2 separate regions of the Homo sapiens genome follow, and region 2 is linked to region 1. A link means that fine-mapping ties the variant in region 1 to the expression of a gene that starts in the linked region. Tissue or cell type: whole blood. Region 1 holds a variant in brackets; the other region holds the start of a gene. All regions are shown on one strand. Distances are from middle to middle.

Region 1 (11,088 bases):
TAAGCCTTCATTTGCTACCCCAAATGGCTACATGATGCTGCACCTCCATCTCCAGCCTGAGAGCCCTGAGGGTTTTCAAACTTCTGCATTTTCTTTTTGGGGTGTAGTTCTTGCTCAAGGTCTAGCAGTGGAGGAAGAGAATTAAAAGAACTTCTTGTTTGAAGCGAAAGTGAAAGATGCCCCACTGCCCAGAAATGCAGATGACTGTGTATAACTGTTTAACATCTTTTAGTAACTGCATTTGGGGAAATTGCTATTTATGTCTTATAAACAACATAGCATTGAGTTCCCATGATAGGATTAAATTTAATTAATTCATTTATTAAACAAACTTTTTTTTTTTAAAGTGCTTCCAATACACTCAGAACTGTTTTAAGCACTGGGAGTTTGGCAGTAATTTTGACAAAGGTCCTCCTCCCCTCACTGAGCTCACATTCTAGTGAAGATCACAGACAATAATCAATGCAGTAATCTGATACCAGACAGTAATACATCATGAAAAGAAAAAGTAGGATAAGGGGAGAAGAGGGAAGCAAGGGAGGCCTCTGTGAGGAGGAACCATTAGTAAGAGATTTCACTGAAGGGAAGGAGTGACTCATGTCAAGATGTGGAAAGAGTGCTGCAGGCAGAGGAAACAGTACAAAGGCCCTGGAGTGGAAACAAAATTGAGGTGCTTCAAAGGCTAGGAAGGTCAGAATTACGGGATGAAGTGAGCTAGAGGAAAAGTTGTAGAAGGTGAGATTATTGAGGTAATGAGGGGTCAGATCACATAAGGCAATGGAGTTTTCAAAGAGCAGCACCTCCCAGCTGAGCATTTAGAAATATGAGTGTTTCTGTTGGTGCATTGCTTTGCGGCACTACTATCATGCGTGAGTGTCAAGAGCCATGAAGAGTCTGACTTTACTCTGCTTGCAAGCTAACAAGTTAGCCTGCTGCAGTTTCATGTATGCTGATGGATGACACAAGACTTCTGGGTAAGCGTTGAAAAATAGTTTGCTATTCACAGGAAGAGCAACAGCCAGGATATCAGTATTTATGCTAATTCCCTGTGCTGAGCCGAAGTTCCCAAAGGGCAATATTGAAAGGGCCAGGTGATATCCACAATGGGTTGCCCTACAGGAGAGGAACCCTGAGCCTTGGGAACCCAAATCTTTTCTAATGATCAGTAGACATGTCTTTTGTTCTGAAGGGAAATATTTCTTTATTCCAAGGCTGCTTGTATAAGCATACTTTAAATATCAGTCTGCAGCAAAGAACTGTTAATGCCTTGCTCATAAGACATTTGGAACCTTGACAAGAGACCCGTGGAGATTATTTCCCAACAGTGATCAGGGGCTAACTATTCTTCAAAGAGTGGTAGAGAATTATCTTGCCCAAAATCTCAGTAGTACCTTTTGTACATAACATGAGAATTCTTTACCTTCTGAGCTTGTTTAAAAAAATTCTTGCAGATGGATTGAATGTGATACACGAAAGAAAGAGTAGCAGAGTCATGGCAGAGAAGCCCTGCTATTTACTGAGAAGGCTAACTCTGCAGGAGGGGTGGGTTGAGGGGATGAGAAAGAAGAGCTCTATTTTGGACATGTTAAATGAGAAATACCAATTAGTTGTCTTGGTAGAGATTGAGATTAATATAGTTCAAGTTCCTGACATAATAGGTCCTATCTAAAATGTTAGTTTCCTTAGCTTCCCTTTTGTGGTATTTGACGTTTTTAACAACTCCCTCCTTCTAAAAATTCTGTTTCCTTAGCTTTGGCAACATCTTTCTGTCTTTATTCCGTAATCTTTGACACATTTTATAGTTCCTCTTCTTGGATACTTTCCTTGCACGTTGCCCTTTTCCAGTATTTTGTTTTTGAAACTCTTCTCAGGTTTAACATTTTGTTGCTTATCCTTTCAGTCTTTTACTTGAAAAAAAAAAGTATATGTATGTATATACACACACACACACACACACACACACACACACACATAAAATAATGAGCTCTTCATTGTAGAGTTGTAATATTCTTGTTTAATTAACTATATATTTAAAATTTTTTTCATGTAATTACTTAGTTTTCTGGAACACCATTAAACAAATTCCATAATATTCCATTATTTGAGTATATCAATTTATTCAGTTAATCCACTATTATGTTTTAACATGCTTTTTTATTTGAAATAATGTCAAAGTTACAGAATAATTGCTAGAATAGTACACAGAACTTGGTTTTCCCCAAGTCGTTTGATAGTAAATTGCCTACATGATGCCCCATCACCCTGAATATTTCAGTGTGTATTTCCAAAAATAAGGGCATTTGCCTGCGTGACCAGATAGAGCCTTCCAAACTAGAAAATTAACATTGAGGCTGTGCCACTGTTTCATCCACAGATCTCATTCAAGCTTCACTAGTTTTCTCAGTAAGTTCCGTCAGAGTAAAAGATCCAGTCCTCAAGCACAAGTTGCACTTATCTGTCCTGTCTCTGGAAGATTCTTCACTTTGGAACACTTCCTCAGTTTTTCCTTAATTTCGTGACTTTGACACATCTGAAATTAAAGACCAGTTATTTTGTAAATAGTTTCCCAACTTTGGTTTATATGATATTGAATCATGATTAGATACAGGTTTTTTCATGTTGGCTACAAATACCACAAAAGTGATGCTTTGTTTGTGCTTCTCACTGTGTCTTCTCAGATGGAACACAATTGCAATCTGTCTCATAATGGTGTGTTTGATTACTTAAGTGGTGTCTGCCAGGTTTCTTCACTCTAAAGTCACCATATTCCCTTTGTTATTAAAAAATGTTTGGGGTGAGGTTATTTGAGACTATAAGAATATTCTGTTACTTATTAAATTTTTACTTGCCAATTTTAGCATTTACTGATGTGTCTTGGCTGTTTTAATCATTACTATGATTGTTACCAAACGATGACTCTCTGATTTTCTTATTCCTTTTTACATTCATTGGTTGTCATTCTACTGTAAGGAAAAGCTTTTTATTCTTCAAAATTTTCAATCATTTTTATATCAAATGGTTATAATCATGACTATCATTATTTATTTTGATCCTTCAAAATTTCCCTGATTTGGCCAGTCGGGGAAAGAGCCCTTTCAAGTGGTGTCTGTGTTCATATGACCTCAAAAAAAATTTTTTTTTTTTGGAGACAGTGTGTCACTCCGTCACTCTGTCTCCCAAGCTGGAGTGCAGTGGTGTGATCACGGCTCATGAAGCCTCGACCTCCTGGGTTCAGGTGACTCTCCCTCCTCAGCCTCCTGAGTAGCAGGGACTACAGGTGTGTACCACCACTCCTGGCTAATATTTGTATTTTCATTTTTTTATTTTTTTTTGTAGAGTCAAGGTTTCACCATTTTAACCAGGCTGGTATCGAACTCCTGGGTGCAAGCAATGCTCATGCTTCAGCCTCCCAAAGTGCTGGGATTATAGTTGTGAGCCTCCGTGCCTGGCCTGGCCTCAAAATTCTTTTAAGAACTTTCTTACTTTCTGAATAGCAAGATGATCCAGACTTATCTTGTTCTTTCTTTGTACCCAGCTCTAGAACCAGCTATTTCTCCAAGAAACTCTGCTCTTTTTCCACAGAATAGTACTCTAGAAATCGACATCTAGGTACTATGTGCTTATTGTTATCAGGATGTCACTCTCCCAGCCCACTCAGTGAGCAGAGCTGGGAAAATATGTATGTATATACATATGTACACATATATACTTTTACATCTGTATTTATCTGTCGATTCATTCATCGATCCATGAGTTCACAACAATGCTTCCAATACCACAAAGTTCATTCTAGTGTTTTCCCTTCTCCCACAGTGAGAAAATATGGATCTTATCATCCTCAGTACACTTATGTGGTGATCAATTGAATATAAGCAATCTCCCATTGCTGTTTCTACTACTCAACCCTTACCCCGACACTCCAACCACCCAGTCATGCTTCAATGCTCAGTTCCAGGCCACTGCTGCTCCCACCCTCACTACAGATGTCCACCTAGCCCAACTTGGCTCTGAAACTGTGCAGTAGCTGCCACCTCCACCCCTTCAGGCAGAAGCCCTCCACACCCTGCCAGGCTTCAATGCCTCGCACACAGCTGCTGCTGCCACTGTCACTGCCAGTGTCCACACAGAGGCTCCCTGTGCCCTACTTGGGCTCCACCACCCTGTACTAAGGTGCTTGAAAGCCCTCCACACACACATCAATGCCTGCCTTGCTTCACCTGAACTGTGTTGGCTACTGACTTCATTTAAGGCTGGCAGGCAAGTAGGTAGTAGGATGGCAGGAAGGACAGTCCTTTGTTTTTGAACATTTAGATGGTACCCCAATGGGGGCTCTTATAAACAGCTTTTCTGTTACAGTTCATAGATTTTTAAAGATAAATGTGCTCTATAATTATTTACTTTCTTACATCTGGAGACCCTGAATAAAATTAATAGTCTCATTGCTTTCCCATGCAGCCTTTGGCTTACCTATCAAAACCTTAGAAGAATACTACACTTATAGTACATTGTTTGGGTGGAGGTAAGATGGGATTATTCCCTAGCTTGATTTTAGTAAATAATTCTATCAGGATCTTTTATACAACAATTTACTCCTAGTTATTTTGCCTCTACAGATTTTAACCTGCAACAGCCCAAAATAATTACTTTTTGCCATTCCTATAACACCTGAATTCAACTGAGTCAATTCAATTTATTTAATGTTAAAATAAATCACACCAATTATGAGATATCAAATTCACCAATATTGATTAATATTATTTAAGTGAACATTTGGTTAGTTTATCCTTACTTTTATATCATAAGATTTTAAAAGAAGTGTTTGCTTATTTCCTGCTTTAACTCTTTTTATTGTGGTAGAGATGGTTGTTCCTCTTTTTATTTGGTTGGGAAAATTCACCTTGGAAAAAAATATTCTGGAAATTACCATAGAAAGAACCTTGGTGTCAACCAAATCACTTCCCAATTTTTGTTAATTTTGTTTCTTACTAAGACATATGATGACATCACATTTGAACAAAATATTCTACCACGAATTGAATTTCTTGTGGAATTTATGAAATGATAAATTTCTTGATGTTAAGCTACTTGTCTTATGCAAATTTCTGTTCACACAATTCTCCA[C/A]CCTTATATTTCGTAGGTGTTAGCTAAGTGTGTGCTATTATTTTTACGTTTGAATTAATGACAACATGAGTTAAAAGAACTGGCTCATTCTTATTTCAGATTCATTTTGGGTAAATCAGGTGTAAATAAATCTACGCTCCTGACAGTCTGTTTTTTGGAACATGGATCTCAAGAGAGTGTGGGGGTGGGGAGGAGGATTATGTGATAAAATAAATAGTAAAAATGCTATTTCTAAGGTTCCCTCTTAAAAATTTACAAAGTATATTAGCATAATACAGACTCTGGGAAGCCCTGAAGTAAAAACATCCTTTTAGTTTTCTTAATCCAGTCTCCCAAACGTATTGACAGTAGATGTGTGCGTGTTTATGTGCTAATAACCCTGTAACAATCCAAACAGCTGGATTTCACATGACACACCTTGACAAACACAGACTTTTATAAGTGAAATGATGTCGTTTATTGTTTGCAAATTGCTAACTGGAGTTAGGAGCTACAGAATGATGCCAGTAGATCCAGTCTGAAAACAATCTCTCACAACACATGGAAGCTTTTCAAGTGCCTAGGTGAAAAATGATAGACAGTAATTTAAAGATCAAAAGCAAACATTCTTCATTTAAAAATAGGACATGAAAGGAAGGACAAACGTCCTGTTGTGACAGTTCTGGTCTTCACTCAGTGCTTTTCTTTTTCAGCTGGGCACCAAAGAAGGTTACCTCACCAAACAGGGAGGCCTGGTCAAGGTAAGGAAGTGTGGTTTTGCTCATGCCAGCCACAGAAAAAAGAGAACACGTCATGTAGACTCAATTCTCATCTTGATAGTTTTTCTTGGAAGCATAATTGCCTGCTCATTTTAACCCATTTGTAATATTCACCTGACTCAAGAGTTCATTTTTATGGCTCATTAGTCAAAATTCTGGAAAATGACTTGACTGTTCTTTGACAAAGCCCTGCATAGGTGTAGCCTGCAGTTAAAAGTCAATAAAACATAGTCCTCATAATGGAATGATTGAGGATGAAGATAGCAAGTTTACTCTAGAACATCTTTCGTTCTTCTTCTAAAACAAGGAAGAAGTCAAAATTGTATAAAATGTTTCTTTAAGGATAGGCCAAAAACATCACTGATGCTACTGAAACTATGTTATAAAATCCAAAGAAAAACACAATTTAAGCTCTTACAAGTTCAGAGTATCCAAATGTTCCCCATTTATGAGACTGTATCTTTAGAATTCCTTTGTTTCATCTCAATGTGCCAAGAAGACCTTCATGGAATGTGTCTGCTCCTTCTCGTTTTAAGAGTCACGGTATTTAACCTCTCACAGACACTGACATGCTTGGAATTAGCCTAAATAATTTCATTATTTGTGTCCCTTCTAGATCGAATGCTCCCTGAGGACAGAGAGTATTCATATTCATAGCATATTTATGTTTAAATCCTCTGTTACTTCTTTTAACTGGGCACATTGACACCCAGGATAGAGTAGGATGCTGTTTGTATATAAGAAGGTAACAGCGGGCAATGATGGTTTTTACCACTGATACCTTGGAGTTCTTAGGCAAGGTTTAGAATATCATGTGAGTCAGGGTTCCTAAACCTCAGTTTTGTTGTTTGTAAGACAAGAATAATAATACTGGCATTGTTGTGTGAGGATTGGATATAATATATAAAGCCTCCAATGATAGTATATCGTCCATATTAGGTACTCAAAGAACAATATTTATCTTTATTATAGAGTTAATAAAATGGAAATTGTAGTGGTTTGTTATAAGTCACATTGAATATTTATGATAGACTAATTCTTTTTGTATTTAAAAATATACTAATGATATATCTGCCTTCATTATGAGCTTAATGCATGAAATTAATTTTTATAGATATTTTGAAACTTTTTTCTCAGAAATGACACAAAAGAATTTTTTGAGCTTAATGCATGAAATTATTTTAATTTTTATAGATATTTTGAAACTTTTTTCTCAGAAATGACACAAAAGAATTTTTTCAGGGTTATAGTATTTAATTTTTTAGATACTTTTAAAATGAAAGTAAATCATCTGGTTCAAATATTACATTCCTGTATTCAAAACTTTGTGTGTCTGTGTGTTTGTGTGTGTGTGTGTTTTTCTCAGACCTGGAAAACAAGATGGTTTACTCTGCACAGGAATGAACTGAAATACTTCAAAGACCAGATGGTGAGAAACATGATAATATATTTTTCCTTTAAAAATCAATTCTCTAGATGAAAGAAACTTAGGTCTTTAAAATCTCTGAAATTATTTTTATATCCACCTGAAATACCTAATAAATGATTGGAGATATGAATTCTTGATTCCTGAAATGAGCAGAGTTATTTTGCAAAGATGAGATGTATGTCCCAGAAATTGCTTTCTTGGATTGGCTAAACCATAGTTCCCCAGGGCACGTAATTCCCTCTGTTTAGGACAATGTAATTATTCTCTTGCCACAATTTATTAACTGTCTCTTTGCAGCAATTTGTCCCTTTATTAAAAATACAGTTTCTCCATTTCCCATGCCCATTTCATTAAGCCAATTTAAAATTATTTTTTCTCACTTTTCTTATATAACATTTCTAAGAAAGTAGAAGTTTTAAAAAATGAGAGAAAAATATACCTCTCTTCCATGTGTTAAAATCCATCTTCATCAGTAAGTTGATAAAGGTAGTAACTTAATGCCCAGTTTTATGAAAGGCTCATTCCAAAACCAAGGACTTCCCTTGGTAGGGCTTTTCTATTGTCAGTCCTGTTAGTGAAAGGAAATATGACAATTGCACATAGTGGAAAACTTGTGAGGGGAATAAGTGAGGGACAGATTTGTCTGTTTTTTTTTTTTTTTTTAATGGTGACATACGTTGCTTTTTATTTTATTTAGTCACCAGAACCAATTCGGATCCTAGACCTAACAGAATGTTCAGCTGTACAATTCGATTATTCACAAGAAAGGGTAAACTGTTTTTGGTAAGTTGTTTTATAAAGAAAACGTTTTTTAATGTCTTCTTGCCAGACACTTATTTTGGCTAAGGAATAGAAAGCTGTATATCTTAATGTCTACAAAGATCAGATATGAGGGGCATGCCTGCATGTAAGGAGTGTTTTCAGCTGAGTGTGACATAACACCTCATTTAAAGTAGCTTAAACAAACAGGCAGGTCAGCTCAGCTTATGTTGCGTACTGGAGAAGTATGACTCACATAGAGGATGCCATTCACATCTTAGACAATTTAATTTCTTTGAGGCTTTCTCCCTCATTTTATTTATAACTTTGTTGACTCTAATGATAGGTGATTTGTATTGTTATGACAATTTCTGGCAAATGGCACAAAAATATTTTGTTCTAACATAATCAGTATGTTATAAAAATGTTCTAACTGGGAGAAGAGTCTTGAGAAAGGAATGTCTTATTTCCCACTACCTTTTATTTTAAAGTTTTTCAAGCATACACAAGTTGAAAGACATACGTTTACATACCCTCCATAGCAGTTATTAATATATCTTACCATATTTGCTTTATCCTAGTCTATCCACTTTTTTTTTTTCCTGAACCAATTGAAAGTAAGTTGCAGACATCATGGCACTTTATTCCTAAAGACTTTAGTATGTGTCTCTTAAGAATAAAATATCACATATAGGACTACAGTATCATTATTACAACTGAAGAAATTAATGTTAATTCTATAATATCAACTGAGAATGGGTGTCTTTTTAAAATTTGCATAGACATGCCCTGTGAGCTAGCAGAGCTTTATTTTTCTCATATATCCAAAAATCAGGAGGCAAGCAGCTATGGTGACAAGGTCAGGTCCAGGGTCTCTACTGTTCTCCTGGCCTTTTCTCATGCTGGCTACTTCAGGATTTGAGTGTCTACTACACCTGTAGGTCTCATATTTTCAACAAAGTACAAAGAAAGATGTAGGGATGATATTACCCGTGTCTGTCCCTTTTTATCAGGAAAACCAATGTTTCTCCAGAAACTCCCCTATGAGACCGGGTGCCATGGCCATCCCCAGCAGCTGATCATAATTGGCTTAAACAAATTAGGATTTATTGCTTGGGGTTCTGTTAGCAAAAGAAAGGGATAATTATCTGTATTAATAGACAGTTAATAATGTCTCCCATAGGGAGTACCAAACAATGACAATGACAGAAACCAGTTTTCGAGTATATGCACTGTATCACTCCCTCCCCACCACTGTCCACTCACTCTCCACTAGACCTCACATCCAGGTATTAGCTTCTATGCACAGAGACTTACCTCTTACCTATTCAACTTTAATTGCTGGTATCAACAAAATACACTGCTTAGGCTTTAAGATATAGAAACCCTTCTGAAGGCTTTTTCACAAAAAGAAAAAAGATTTTTGGTATTTTTGCATCTCAACTGTAAGTAAGGAAGTATGTTCAGTATGTAATTTAGGGCTGACCTTATTGCTTACATAATTTTAACTAGGTAATCAGACACAGTCAAATGAAAAATTACTATACATTTAGGAAAAGTATTTTGTGCCAGTAGGAAAGTTCTTATTCCCTGCAGCAGAGACTGACTCTTGGCCAGAGATGGGAGAAATAACTAATTTAGTTTTATTGTCTCTTTTTATTGTCCCAATAGTTGAAATTGCCCACAACCACAGAAGGCAGAGTTATCCTCGTTGAAGCAAGCTAACACAAATGAGTTCTTTTTAGCAAACTTCTCTGTCTTGCCTATTCTTTGGATCATAGCACAAGTTTTTGAGAGATCAGCTGAATGAATACATAAGTGTTAGAGTTAACCTAAGACATGAACCACAAAAGGATCTAGGGGTGTCCTGAACATGTTTCTTTCTTCTTCAAAGTCTTATTCGAGTATATACATCTGACTTGGAATAATAATATGAATCTACAACTTCCTTAACATTTCTGCAGTTTGCTGGCAGGAGTAGGTGCATATATACCAGCACTTCAAGGTACTTACCTGCATCCTTTATCAATTCTTTTTTCCCTTGCAATACTCTAATTAGTGTTCAACTAATATATATATATATATATATATATAATATATATAATATATTATATTATATATTATATTATATATATTATATATATATATATATATATAGCTAATGATCTGCAATATCTTATGTTCTTTCTTTTGTCCTATTAGTTTGGTATTTCCATTCAGGACATTTTATCTCTGTGCAAAGACCGGAGTAGAAGCTGATGAGTGGATCAAGATATTACGCTGGAAATTGGTGAGAATTTTTAAGCCTTCAGATGTCAAGTCTTGAGAAATAACATGTTGATGATTTCAAACATATTTCTATCAAAAGAGTCAGACTAGACCCAAGAATCAAAGAGATGTCTGGGTGTCTACTTCCAGGCTTGCGGAACAGTCTGTTAATTCTTCTGGGACATGAGAAGAGATGGAGACAGGATTGTAAAAAAGAAAGAATTAAGCCATATTTGGGTCTTAGACATAGAGCCTTAGCCTAATAACCACCTATCAGACTTCCTATAAGGTGTGTCAGTTAGTTCAGTTTTGTCTGGAGGGGGACATTTAGAACCAGAAGGTCTGACAGAGGAAAGCTGACATACTTCTCTAGTTGAAAAGCCTTTTAAATTGTTAGAGAAGAAAGTTTGCCAGAGGCACTTAGCTTAGTTTCCAATGTAAGCATCACTTTGTGCAGGTCAAGGACAAAAGCTGATTTATTTTGTCTGCTCTCTGTATATCTCCCGAGGAGAAGACTGAGTGAGTACTTATAAAACTTCACCAATCTTCTACTTGTTTTTCATGTGCTTGCAAGTTAGTGAGTTCTTAGCCAAGAACTTGTCCTTAAAGCTGACTAAAATTTCCTATAAATACCATCTTAAAAACTTTGATGATTTCTTTTTTTCTATTTTTTTTTTTTTTTTTTTTTGAGACAGAGTCTCGTTCTGTTGCCCAGGCTGGAGTGCAGTGGTGTGATCTTGGCTCAGTGCAACT
Region 2 (11,088 bases), 45 kb before region 1:
AGAGTGAAAAGAACCTTGAGTGAAAATGTTATGTGCTAGTTATTCATCAATTGGCTTCAGCTCCACTTCTGACCTCCTCTCCTCGCCTGGTATCATAGGGGACTGGAAGCCCACAAACTACATTTCACTAATTCCCTTGCCAGCTGTCTTCCAGAAAGAATTTGCTAACAGGAAGACTGGAGAAGGGTAGAAATCTGGGGTTTTTTTGTTTTTGTTTTTGTTTTTTTCTTCCTTAGGCAGTGCTTTCAGCACCATGAGCAGCCTTCAGCAATGGTGGGCAGCTGCATGCTCCAAAAGCCTCAGTCCCAGTTTTCAGCTGCATCAACAGAGTTGTGTCCTTCTGGTCCCACAGACCAGCAGTGGCAGCTAAATGTCTACAGTGGCTTCTCTTTTCTTAACTGGATAGTGACTGATGCACATAAATTCTCTTCCTGGTGCTGCTAATTTCTGACAATTTTCTTAACATTTCTGAGCTCCAATTTTCTTATCTATTAAAAAATAACAAGAATAGCAATACCTGCTCTGTGTCAATAACATAATGTTCATGATATACAAATGAAAATGATTATGAACACTCATAATCTAAAGAAATGTATTTTTATGGATCCTGGTTAAGTTTGCTGTTATTGGTCATGTCTTTCTCTTTCTAGACCTCCAGGAGCCTATTGAATGTTTCTAAATTGTGATCCAGTCAAATATGTTAGTTATTTTTTCATTTGAAAAGATGAATATAGCCTGCACCAACAGGGGGAGCTGTTCTTTTATAACCACTGAGAGTGGCTGTATTTCTTCTTTGAGGGCAAAGCTTTAATTGTTTCAACACCAGCTACTGGGAAATGTCACCAGTGAACCAATTAGCCTGGCTTCCTGAACCATGTAGAACTGATTATCCAAGTCAGGCCGGCAATGGGCTTGGGCACAGGGTATATGGTAGACACAAATGAAGAGTGACCTCAATGTCCCATTAATGTTACTTGACTTGTGCTCACTTGACCTCAGGTTGCTTGTAAAAAAGGTAGGGTCTTAGCCCTTTCTCCCTGAAATCCTCCCCAGTGATTTCTGGGAAGGGCTGGCTTTTTATTTCACTTTAGCTTTCTCGTTAGGTAGGTGACTTTGCATAGTTACCTTCAGTGGATTTACTGTATTATGGTTTTTAGGTTGCTCTTAAAGTGAGAAAAAAATGTGCTTGAGGTAGACCAGGTAGCCCTTTTGATACTTTTAGCCAGGTAATTCTTTATTGTGGGGGCTGTACTGCACACTAGGATATTCAGCATCACTGCACACTAAATGCCAGTAGGCTCCCCAGGTTGTGACAACTAACAATGAAAACCACCTCAAAAATGAGGACCCAATTGAGAACCACCATTTTAGGGGCTATGGATACTATATCAGTGAAGGTTCTCCAGAGAAACAAAACCAATAGTATGTATATATGTGGAGTGTGAGAGTGTGTGTGTGTGAGAGAGAGAGAGGGTGTGTGTGTGTGTGTGTGTGTGTGTGTGTGTGTGTGTGTGTGCGTTGTATAAAATAAGGAATTTCCTCACATAATTATGTAGGCTGGTAAGTCCAAGATCTGCAGGGTGGGCTCACAGGCTGGAGAACTAGTTCAAGTCCAAAGGCTGTCTACTATAGTACCAGGAAGAGTTGATGCTGCAAATGAAGACCAAATGCAGTCTACTGGAAAATTATGTTGCTCGGGGGAGGCTGGTCTTTTGGTTCTGTTCAAATTTTCAACTGGTTGGATGAGGTCCACCCACGTTATAGAGAGCAATCTGCTTTACTCAGAGCCTACCATTTAAATGTTAATTCACTCAAAAACACTCTTATAGAAACACCCCGAATAACATCTGACCAACTATCTGGGCAACCCGTGGTCTGGCCGAGTTGACACGTAAAAGTAACCATCAAAGATATAAGGTGATCAAGACCCTGGAAGTCCCTGCCTCTGGGAGCTCACATTCTAGGCATTGACCCAGATGATAGGCAAGTGTTTCAGTTATCTATCGCTGGCTGTATTAGTCCATTTTCATGCTGCTGATAAAGACATACCCAAGACTGGGCAATTTACAAAAGAAAGAGGTTTATTGGAATTACAGTTCCATATGGCTGGGGAGGCCTCACAATCATGGCAGAAGGCATGGAGGAGCAAGTCATCTTATGTGGATGGCAGCAGGCAAAGAGAGCGCTTGTTCAGGGAAACTCCCATTTTTAAAACCATCAGATCTCATGAGACCTATTCACTATCATGAGAACAGCAGGGGAAAGACCCACCCCATGATTCAGTTATTTCACACTGGGTCCTTCCCACAACATGTGGGAATTATGGGAGCTACAAGATGAGATTTGGGTGGGGACAAGGAGCCAAACCATATCACTGCCTAACAAACCATCCCAAGCTTCATGGCATCAAATAGCAAACATCTTATTAAGTGCATGTATTCTTTAGATCCAAAATTCAAACAGGGCATGGTTTGTCTCTCCTCTTTGATGTCTGGGGCCTCAGCTGGCAATATGCAAACCACTAGGAGAGAGTGATTTGAATGGCTGGAGGCTGGAATCATCTGGGGGCTTCTTCAATCAAGTCTGGCACCTGGACTAGAATGATTCAAGCTGGGATTATCTGGGACTGTTGACTGGAGCACACACATGAAGCATTCCACGTGGCTTGGGCTTCTAGGCATAACAATTATGTTCCTAAGGGGAACCCCTGAAAGTAACATTTGGAGAGTGAGCCTTCCAAGAGACCACAATAGAAACTGCAAGGCTTCTTCTGACCTAGCCTCAGAAGTGATCCAGTGTCACTTCCACCACATTTTATTGGTCACAAGTGAATCACAGAGGCCAGGCCAGATTCAAAGGAGGGGAGTTAGGTGCTGCCTCTTGACAGGGAGCAGCAAGGTCACATTGCAGAAGAGCATGTGGGTTGGGAGATGTATGTGTGTATGTATGTATGTATGTATGTATGTATCTATCTATCTATCTATCTATCTATCTATTTATCTATCATCTATCTACTATCTATCCATCAAGAGAATTTGCCACAAGTAAGCAAATATTCTATATAATTTCAGGTAGAGCTAAAAACAGAAGTGGTATTTAGACTGTTACAGATACAAAGGATCTTCTGGGGTGATAAAAACCATTCTAAAATTGTATTGCAATGATGGTTGCACGACTCTGCAAATTTACTCAAAATTATTGTACACCTAAGGAAAATGAACATTATGATATACAAATTGTACCTCAATATACCTGTTAAATATACAACTAGCATGCCACAGGCACTGAAGGATAAGAACAGACATGATGCTGGCCTTGGTTCCAAAACAAGGTTTTTTGTTTTTTGTTTTTTGTTTTTTTTGAGACGAAGTCTCACTCTGCTGCCCAGGCTGGAATGTAGTGGCATGATCTCAGCTCACTGCAAGCTCTGCCTTCCGGGTTCACGCCATTCTCCTGTCTCAGCTTCCTGAGTGGCTGGGATTACAGGCGTCCACCACCATGCCCGGCTAATTTTTTGAATTTTTAGTAGAGACAGGGTTTCACTGTATTAGCCAGGATGGTCTCGATCTCCTGACCTGGTGATCCACCCGCCTCGGCCTCCCAAAGTGCTGGGGTTATAGGCATGAGCCACCACGCCCGGCCCAGAACAAGATTCTAAATCCCCTTTCAGTTACACAGCAATAGATGTCCCGGGAGGGATGGGCTCCAGCATTTTGTTGAAACTATCTAGCAAGCCTCCTGCAGCTGTTACCACTGCAAAACTAAGTGTGTAGTTAGTGGAGTGGGCGGGGTGGTAGGGATACTGTGAAAAATTGAGTAAATGACAAAGTGGGACAATGACATCAAAGGAGAGGGCAACAGACAGGACAGCAACATGAGGAAGGGCAAAAGGCAGGAAGATTCAGCCAGAAAAGCAGGACGATCTTAGAAAATTCTGCTACTTGTACTTCCAAAAAAGTTAAGAAAAAGAACAACCAGAATTTGCTAAAAATGGGAATGAAATAGATACTAAAACACCAAATAAAGGGCTCTAGAGAGGGAACAGGAACTCTAGTGCCCAGGCTGTTCCCCTGTCACTGCTGTATGCATATTCAGTATCTCCCTGGCCTGCACTGGCCTCTCTGTTCAAGTGGGCCCTGTCCTTCTCTGTGAGCAAACTGTAGCCAAAAGAATTTAAGTGCTCATTTAGTCAGTTATATATGTATTATCAGAGCTTAGTCTTCAGCAGACTGCCTCCAGACACTCAGGAACTTCCCACTGGCAACCAGTGTTACCCGGGTCTCACCGATCCCGGGTGAACAGTGGTAATAGGGAGGAAGATGAAGGATAGAACCATTGCACAGCAGCCTTTTGCAATCATCTAGTCCTTTAGGAACAGTTCTGCTGTGCTGTTTAGTCCTCAGGCCACACTGTGAGAACAAGTTACAGAGCACTGTGGTGAGTGCTGAATGAGTCAGGGAGTAGAGATAGGAAGAGAGAGAGAGAAAGGGAGAGGGAGAGAGAGACCTGTAGGTACATAGAAAAGGCAGGAAGCAACATATGTCCTTGACTCATTTGATACTGCACTTTGTTCCACTTCCCAAGGATTCAGTCACTGCAATTTACCTTTAGCATTCCAGGCAGATAGAATCCTGCTCTACATATGAATCTGGGCACAAAGCCATGCAGGTGTGAGTAAGCCCATGAAGGAAGTGGCACTCAAAGACTCTAGGAGTTCAGGCCAGGTGCAGTGGCTCATGCCTATAAGCCCAGCACTTTGGGAGGCCGAGGTGAGTGTATCACCTGAGGGTGAAACCCTGTCTCTATAAAAACACAAAAATTAGCAGAGCATGATGACGGGTGCCTGTAATACCAGCTACTTGGGAGGCTGAGGCAGAAGAATCACTTGAACCCTGGGAGGTGGAGGTTGCAGTGATCTCAGGTCATGCCATTACACTCCAGACTGAGTGACAGAGCGAGACTGTCTCAAAAAAAAAAAAAAAAAAAGACTCCAGGAGTTCTAATATGCCCCATTAGGTGGGCACCAGAATGGCCCCTTGTAACTTTTTCCTACCTTCTCCTCTCCTAATTCTTTTTCTGTGGAGGAAACAATAATTGTCTCTGAATCATCCCTATTCGGAGCATTGAGGATATATTAGAAGGTCTGGGTAAACAAGCAGAAATATTGCAAAAGTGCTAAAACATCAAACTTCAGGGTCGAATTTGTGGTTTGCTTCTGCTTTTTCTATCCACTCTAAAGGTGTTCCTGATAGAGAAGCTTCCTCAGTGTTCCCTGTGTTGGTGTGTAAGACAGAAAGAAGATGGGGTAAAAGAGTGCACGCATCCTCCACTACAAACCAGAGGCTGATAGCATTAGGGAGAAGCTAGGGTTTGGCCTCACACAAGCAGTTTGCACTGTTGTCCAATCCCAGGTGGGGTGGTTGCCTCTTCATTTCCTTTGATAGCAACCGCCTGTTGCGTGATGTAGTGTGGGTGTCCTCAGAGGTAGCTACCTAAGTTTGCATACTTCCTGACTGACAGAACACTCCTGCCAGTGCCTCCAGGCCAGGGTGGTGGTGTTGGTGGGAGGAGTAAGTAACCAAGTTTCACTTCCTTGCCTTGGAGACTCAGAGCCATAGCAGGCTGCTGTCTCACAGAGCGAGAAGGTGTCAGGAGCAGCCCAGTTGTGTCTCTCTCTCTACCTCTGTGAAGGGCGCGAATGGGCAGAGCAGAACTTCTAGAAGGGAAGATGAGCACCCAGGATCCCTCAGATCTGTGGAGCAGATCCGATGGAGAGGCTGAGCTGCTCCAGGACTTGGGGTAAGGCAGCAGATCTCCTTTCAAAGTACCTAGTGGGTGGACATTGACTCCGCACTCCCACCTGCATGCTTTGATTAATGACTATCTTCAGTGCCTTGTTGCCCTCTGCCACCTCAACCATTTATTTTTTTCCACTTTATTCATTTGTATCTGTTAAGTATCTTCTTGTCTGGGGCTAATTCCATTGGAAAAGCAGGCATTATTTTTCTAGATGTGAAAACAAGTTGGTTGAGAAAATAGGGAAAAAAATCAAATGTTGGACATTCTTTGAGAAGAGGGACAGAATTGGGATATAGAGGTGATGTTGCCTGGCTTCCTTGATGTTGCTCTGGTTTATGAATAAATGCGCTGTTCAAGAGTTTCTAGCACTGACCCAGGGACAGTAAAAGGACTGTGTTTCTGGTAAGATAAACAGAAAGCTTACCCTACTGTAAGGGAGAGGGACTTTTTCAAAAGACAGAGAATGAGGAAGTTCCTGCAACAGTCTCGCTTGTATATTTCTTTCTCCTGATACTGCATTTGTGAGATTTGATATCGTATGTATGTCCAGAGAGCCAACTTTGAGCCTTTCAGTACCAACAATCCAGGAAGAGGATAAAATTTCTGCTTCAAACAGGTAAGCATAGGTAGGTGGAGTCATTGGAGCTCTGTCTTTAAGAAGGGACCCAGATGACAACTCATCCGGGTATTTAATAAGAAACAAGTATTACACAAGAGAGGAATTGGGGATTTCCCAGAGAAACTGCCTAATGCACTGGGAATATCCCAATGAAGGTGGCTTTGACACCTGTGCATGAGGAGAGGCAAAACCTTTACCTTCTGCCTGGACAAATAGCTCTAACTCTTCATAGCAATCCAATGACATAGGAGCTGTTGTCATCTTCATCTTACAAAGGATGAAAACAAGTACCAAACAGGTTTGAATAACTTGCTTGCTAGTCACACATCAATTACATAGCAAAGCTGGGCATCCAACCTACCACAGGCTATGTCCGAAACCAAAGAAAAACCAAAATAGAGTTGAAATCTCTCTGTGTTAAGGCTGCAGAGATTGTATCTTTTTATGTTGTATTACTGTAAAAGTTTATTAATAATTCCTGTCTTTAGATTATAAAACTGAGGTCTCGGAATTGAACTCTACTTTCATTTGGCAAATCAGATAAAACACCTGGAATTTTCATTAAAGAAAACTCCCCTTATTAGGAAGCCAGAGCTCTAGAATCTCTCTATCCCTCTAGATTGAATCCCCAAACAGAAGAGGTAAAAGGCCCTTCTGTGAGCATCCAGCACAGGTGTCACCAAGTCCAAAAGCTAAAGCTGAACTGTGGCCCTCAGTGTCTTATTGAACTATTAAGTTACAATGCTTTACATGTTCTGTTAACTGTATTCCCAGCCCACTGTAATAGAAAACCCCAAAGGAGGAGATAGAGGAATATATTCAATTCTGGTCCTTTAGTTAAACAAACAATCCTAGAACCCAGAGTCTATGGTTGAGTACTGTGGGAACACACTTAGATGACAAAGATGAATTAGATGCTGTCTCTGTGCCCCACCATGATGTCAACAGCAAGAAGCAACTACAGGTGAAACCCACGGGTGGAATAGGACTGTGTCTTTCCTCCATGTGCAAAGAATAGACATTGAATACAAAACTGAGTCACACCACTTCCCTGCAAAAAAAAAAGGGTACATTCATGGCCAGATTTCCCTATTTCAGAAGGCGTGAACAATTAATAAACATGAGGATGATTTCTATAGCAATGGGCAACCTGCAGTTATCTGGGAAAACTGCTCTACAGTCCTGGTTCTTGACCTTGGCTGTGCTCTGGAACATCTTGACACCCAAACCACAGACTTGACAAATGATTTCAGTATCTCTGGGGATGGGTGTTTTCTTGTCAAACTCTCCAAGTAATTCCAAAGTGAGACCCTAGGTTGATGATCACTGCATAGAATATGTATCTACCAAATGCATTAGGTAAATGTGGTCTTGTTTTTCATTTTAAGTCTGTTGGGTGTGTACTTGAATCTTAAAATTACTAATAAATGTTGATATTTTGTTTGTTGGTTTAGGGGCATTTCGATTAGCAACTTTATTGAGGTTATTTTACATATCATAAAATATACCCGTTTCAAGTGTACAATTCAATACTTTTGACTAACTTTACAGAGTGATACAACCATCACCATAAATCAGTTTTAGGACATTTCTGTTCTCCCAAAAAGAACCCTCAGATGTATGGCTTATTTAAGCATACTCAACAGTGTGCTGGAAAAACAGCTGGGAAGAGTTGGGGTGTGGAGAAAGCCCTGATTTCAAGAATTTGCCTAATTCCCTGGTATAAATACTCCCACTATAGACAATTTCAAGCTGCCAACAATTTAACATCATCGAATTGAATATTTAATAATCAACTTGTGCCAGTACTTGCTCCTGCAGCACCTCACTGATACATTTTTTATAGATAACAATTTGAGAACTCTTGACAATGACTTGTTGCCTCTGCCAGAATACTGAACATAACTCGAACATTATAATGACTTTTTCTTTGAACCTTTAACCACTGGCGAGATAGAATCTCTACCAAACCTTCTGATTAATTTAGTTTCCAAAGACCTCCTTAAAAACAAAATGATTTAATGTAATGGATAGATAAAAGGTAGCTGGTTTTAATGACTTAATTTTTCAATTATTTTTAAGAGGTTATTTGAGTAGTTAGATAAATCCTTACGTTTATGTTTTTGATAGACATAAACAGATAAGTTAGTGGTTAAATTACAGAAATAGCAGAAGTCTTTGTTCTTGGGCCTCTGTTTTTTTCAGGCTCTGGAATATGTAAATCCTGTAAATTGAGCCCTGAACTGCAGCAAATCCATCACTTGCCTTTCCAGGACATATACAACTTGCTCAGAGTACAGGTTTATTATTTTCTAAAATACCTAAATCAAGCAACACAGTGCTTTTCCATGTCTCATTTATAGAGTGTCAGCCTAAAATCATTAATTTTCTTTCATCTAAAATACATTAATGTGTCCAGAAGCAAAGGAGAAATAAAACCATCTTAAATTGTTGCTCAGCTTCGCTTACACTTCTCAGGGGAGGGTATGGGCTTAGGGGGAAGAGAGGTGTGGGGAGGGCAAGAAGTGAGGGTGTGGAGAATCAGGGGAGAGGAAGGAGGTGGACCATGAACGAGGAGATGGGTCAGGCTGTTTGCTGCTTGCAAAATGAAAATATGGCAAAATAAAACAAGTAACAAATACTGGAGATATCACCTAAGTAACAAACTGGTAAAGAATAGCTAGTTAAATTACTGAAAATTCCAGCAATTCTTTGGCTTTAACAAAGGTTACTATACTATTTCTACATATAGCTATATATATGTATAAACACAAAAGAAATAACAAAATGAAAGTGTTTTAGCATACTTTAAAATTAAATATTCAAATGATCTAGTCAGTTGTAACTCCAAGTGAGAAACATAATAAACGTTCTCTTTTTTAAATACTTTCTCAAATCGAAAGTTGTATAAGAAAGTGCCAGTGTTTGGCTGGATTGGCCAGTGCCAAAGAACTAGATTCCAAGCTCTGAATATTTAAATAAATTGATAACTAATTAGTCACATATAAGAGAAGTTTAGAGTAGACCATGGAGCAGCAAACCTTTTTTTTATAAAGGGCCGGGTAACGAATGTTTTAGGCTTTGCAGGCCTTACAGTCTCTACCTCAACTACTCACATCTGCTGTTGTGCAAAAACTACCAGAGAACACAGAAACAAATGACCGTGATGGTGTTCAAACAAAACGTTATTTATACACTGAAATGTGAATTTCATATAATTTTTATGAATATTTTTCTATTTCCCTCAAGCATTTCAAAATGTACAGCCATTCTTGGCTCCCAGTCCATACTAAAACAGGTGTCTGACAGGAATTAACCCTCAGCTGGTGGTTTGCTGACCCACGGAATAAATGATAATAAACAAAATGAGTCCGTATTATAAGGCAGGCATTTTGTAGACACCAGCTCTGGTCTTTGAAAGGCACTGGTATTCCAGCTTTACACAGGAAGAGACTCAAGAGCAGAAAAATCAGGTTGCCTACAGTCTCTGAGTGTCTGTGTTCAAAACCCATGCTGACTTCACAAACCAGGTTGTTTCCCTGCTGTGATAGTCCTAATTTACTGACCACCTACTATGCATCAGCACCATACCATTCACACGCATAATGCCATTTAGGCTTCACAATAACACTTTCAATACGATATCACCATACTCATTTCATAGACGCAAAAGGTGACTTCAATAAGCTAAGTATACGATCCAGGTCACAGACTTTGTAAGTAGTGGAGCTGAGAGACACACCTAGGAACTTACCCCAGAGCTTTCCACTGCATGGTGCTGCTTTGTAGAGCCCACTGGTCAAAGGTATGTATTCTAGTAATGGCAATTAGTAATTATTGGATGCTTATCATGTGCTAAGCACTAGTTTAAGCCCTTTGCCCATGTGAACTTGTTTAATTTACACATTGCTGTGAGGTGGGTATTATTACTAATGTTGTCCCCATTTATAGATGAGAAAAGTAAAGAACAGAGTTTTAATCACATGCTTAAGTTTCCATTCTAACATACCTTCAAATCCAAGAGTTTTGCTCCAGAGCCTTCATGCTTGACTGCTGATGTAACCTCCTGGTTTTCATCAAATTTCTCTCATCTTACTATACTAGTACATGTTCATAGTTCTTAATATGAACTGAGAGAAGCAAAGAAAGTTCTGTGATTATAACAAAGTTTACTATAAAAGACATTATTCTTTCTATTCCTCACATAATATACATGCACATGTACACAAAGCCAGGCCAGCATTCTAGTTAATCAGAACATTATTGAATTTTGTGTAGAATTCATTTTCAGGACTAGAAAAATTTATTCAGCTAAGAAACGTAAAGTCAAAATTTCAGTGGAACCTGTTTACAGCGGTGTGACACTAACTACAGCAATACAGCTTGTTCCTCTTCTGTGCACAGCTCTGTAATCTTGGATTCTAAAAACGGAAGGTGGTTCTTCTGTGGTTGTATAATTAGTATGTAACTAGTGTACAGTTCCATCTCTTCATAACTCAAGTGAATTTCCTCTTCAGTTGTGGTGTTTTTCTGTTCCTCCAAAGGGTGACTTCCTTCTACTTACAAGTGGAAATCTGTCCCACAGACTGTCCATGTTGTGGGGAGTCACTTTGTTTCATTCATTCACTCTTCTACTGGGTCATAGATCTATCTGTTGTATGATGACGCCA

The links. PIP is the estimated chance that this variant, and not a neighbour inherited with it, causes the effect.
Region 2: DAPP1 starts here. The variant in region 1 is fine-mapped to the expression of DAPP1 in whole blood (TOPMed, PIP 0.98).

Annotation. Positions count from the first base shown.
Region 1 is chr4:99,855,765-99,866,852 of GRCh38, forward strand. It overlaps DAPP1 (dual adaptor of phosphotyrosine and 3-phosphoinositides 1), which reads left to right. Exons shown (of 9, transcript NM_014395.3): 5 at 5,814-5,861; 6 at 7,246-7,308; 7 at 8,006-8,091; 8 at 10,270-10,357. Among named protein-coding and RNA genes, the nearest start is that of LAMTOR3, 33 kb to the right of the region's middle. The variant C/A (reference allele first, on the strand shown) is at 5,122.
Region 2 is chr4:99,811,216-99,822,303 of GRCh38, forward strand. DAPP1 (dual adaptor of phosphotyrosine and 3-phosphoinositides 1) reads left to right here and starts at 5,612. Exons shown (of 9, transcript NM_014395.3): 1 at 5,612-5,799. The coding sequence starts at 5,699. RefSeq lists an enhancer at 10,832-11,088.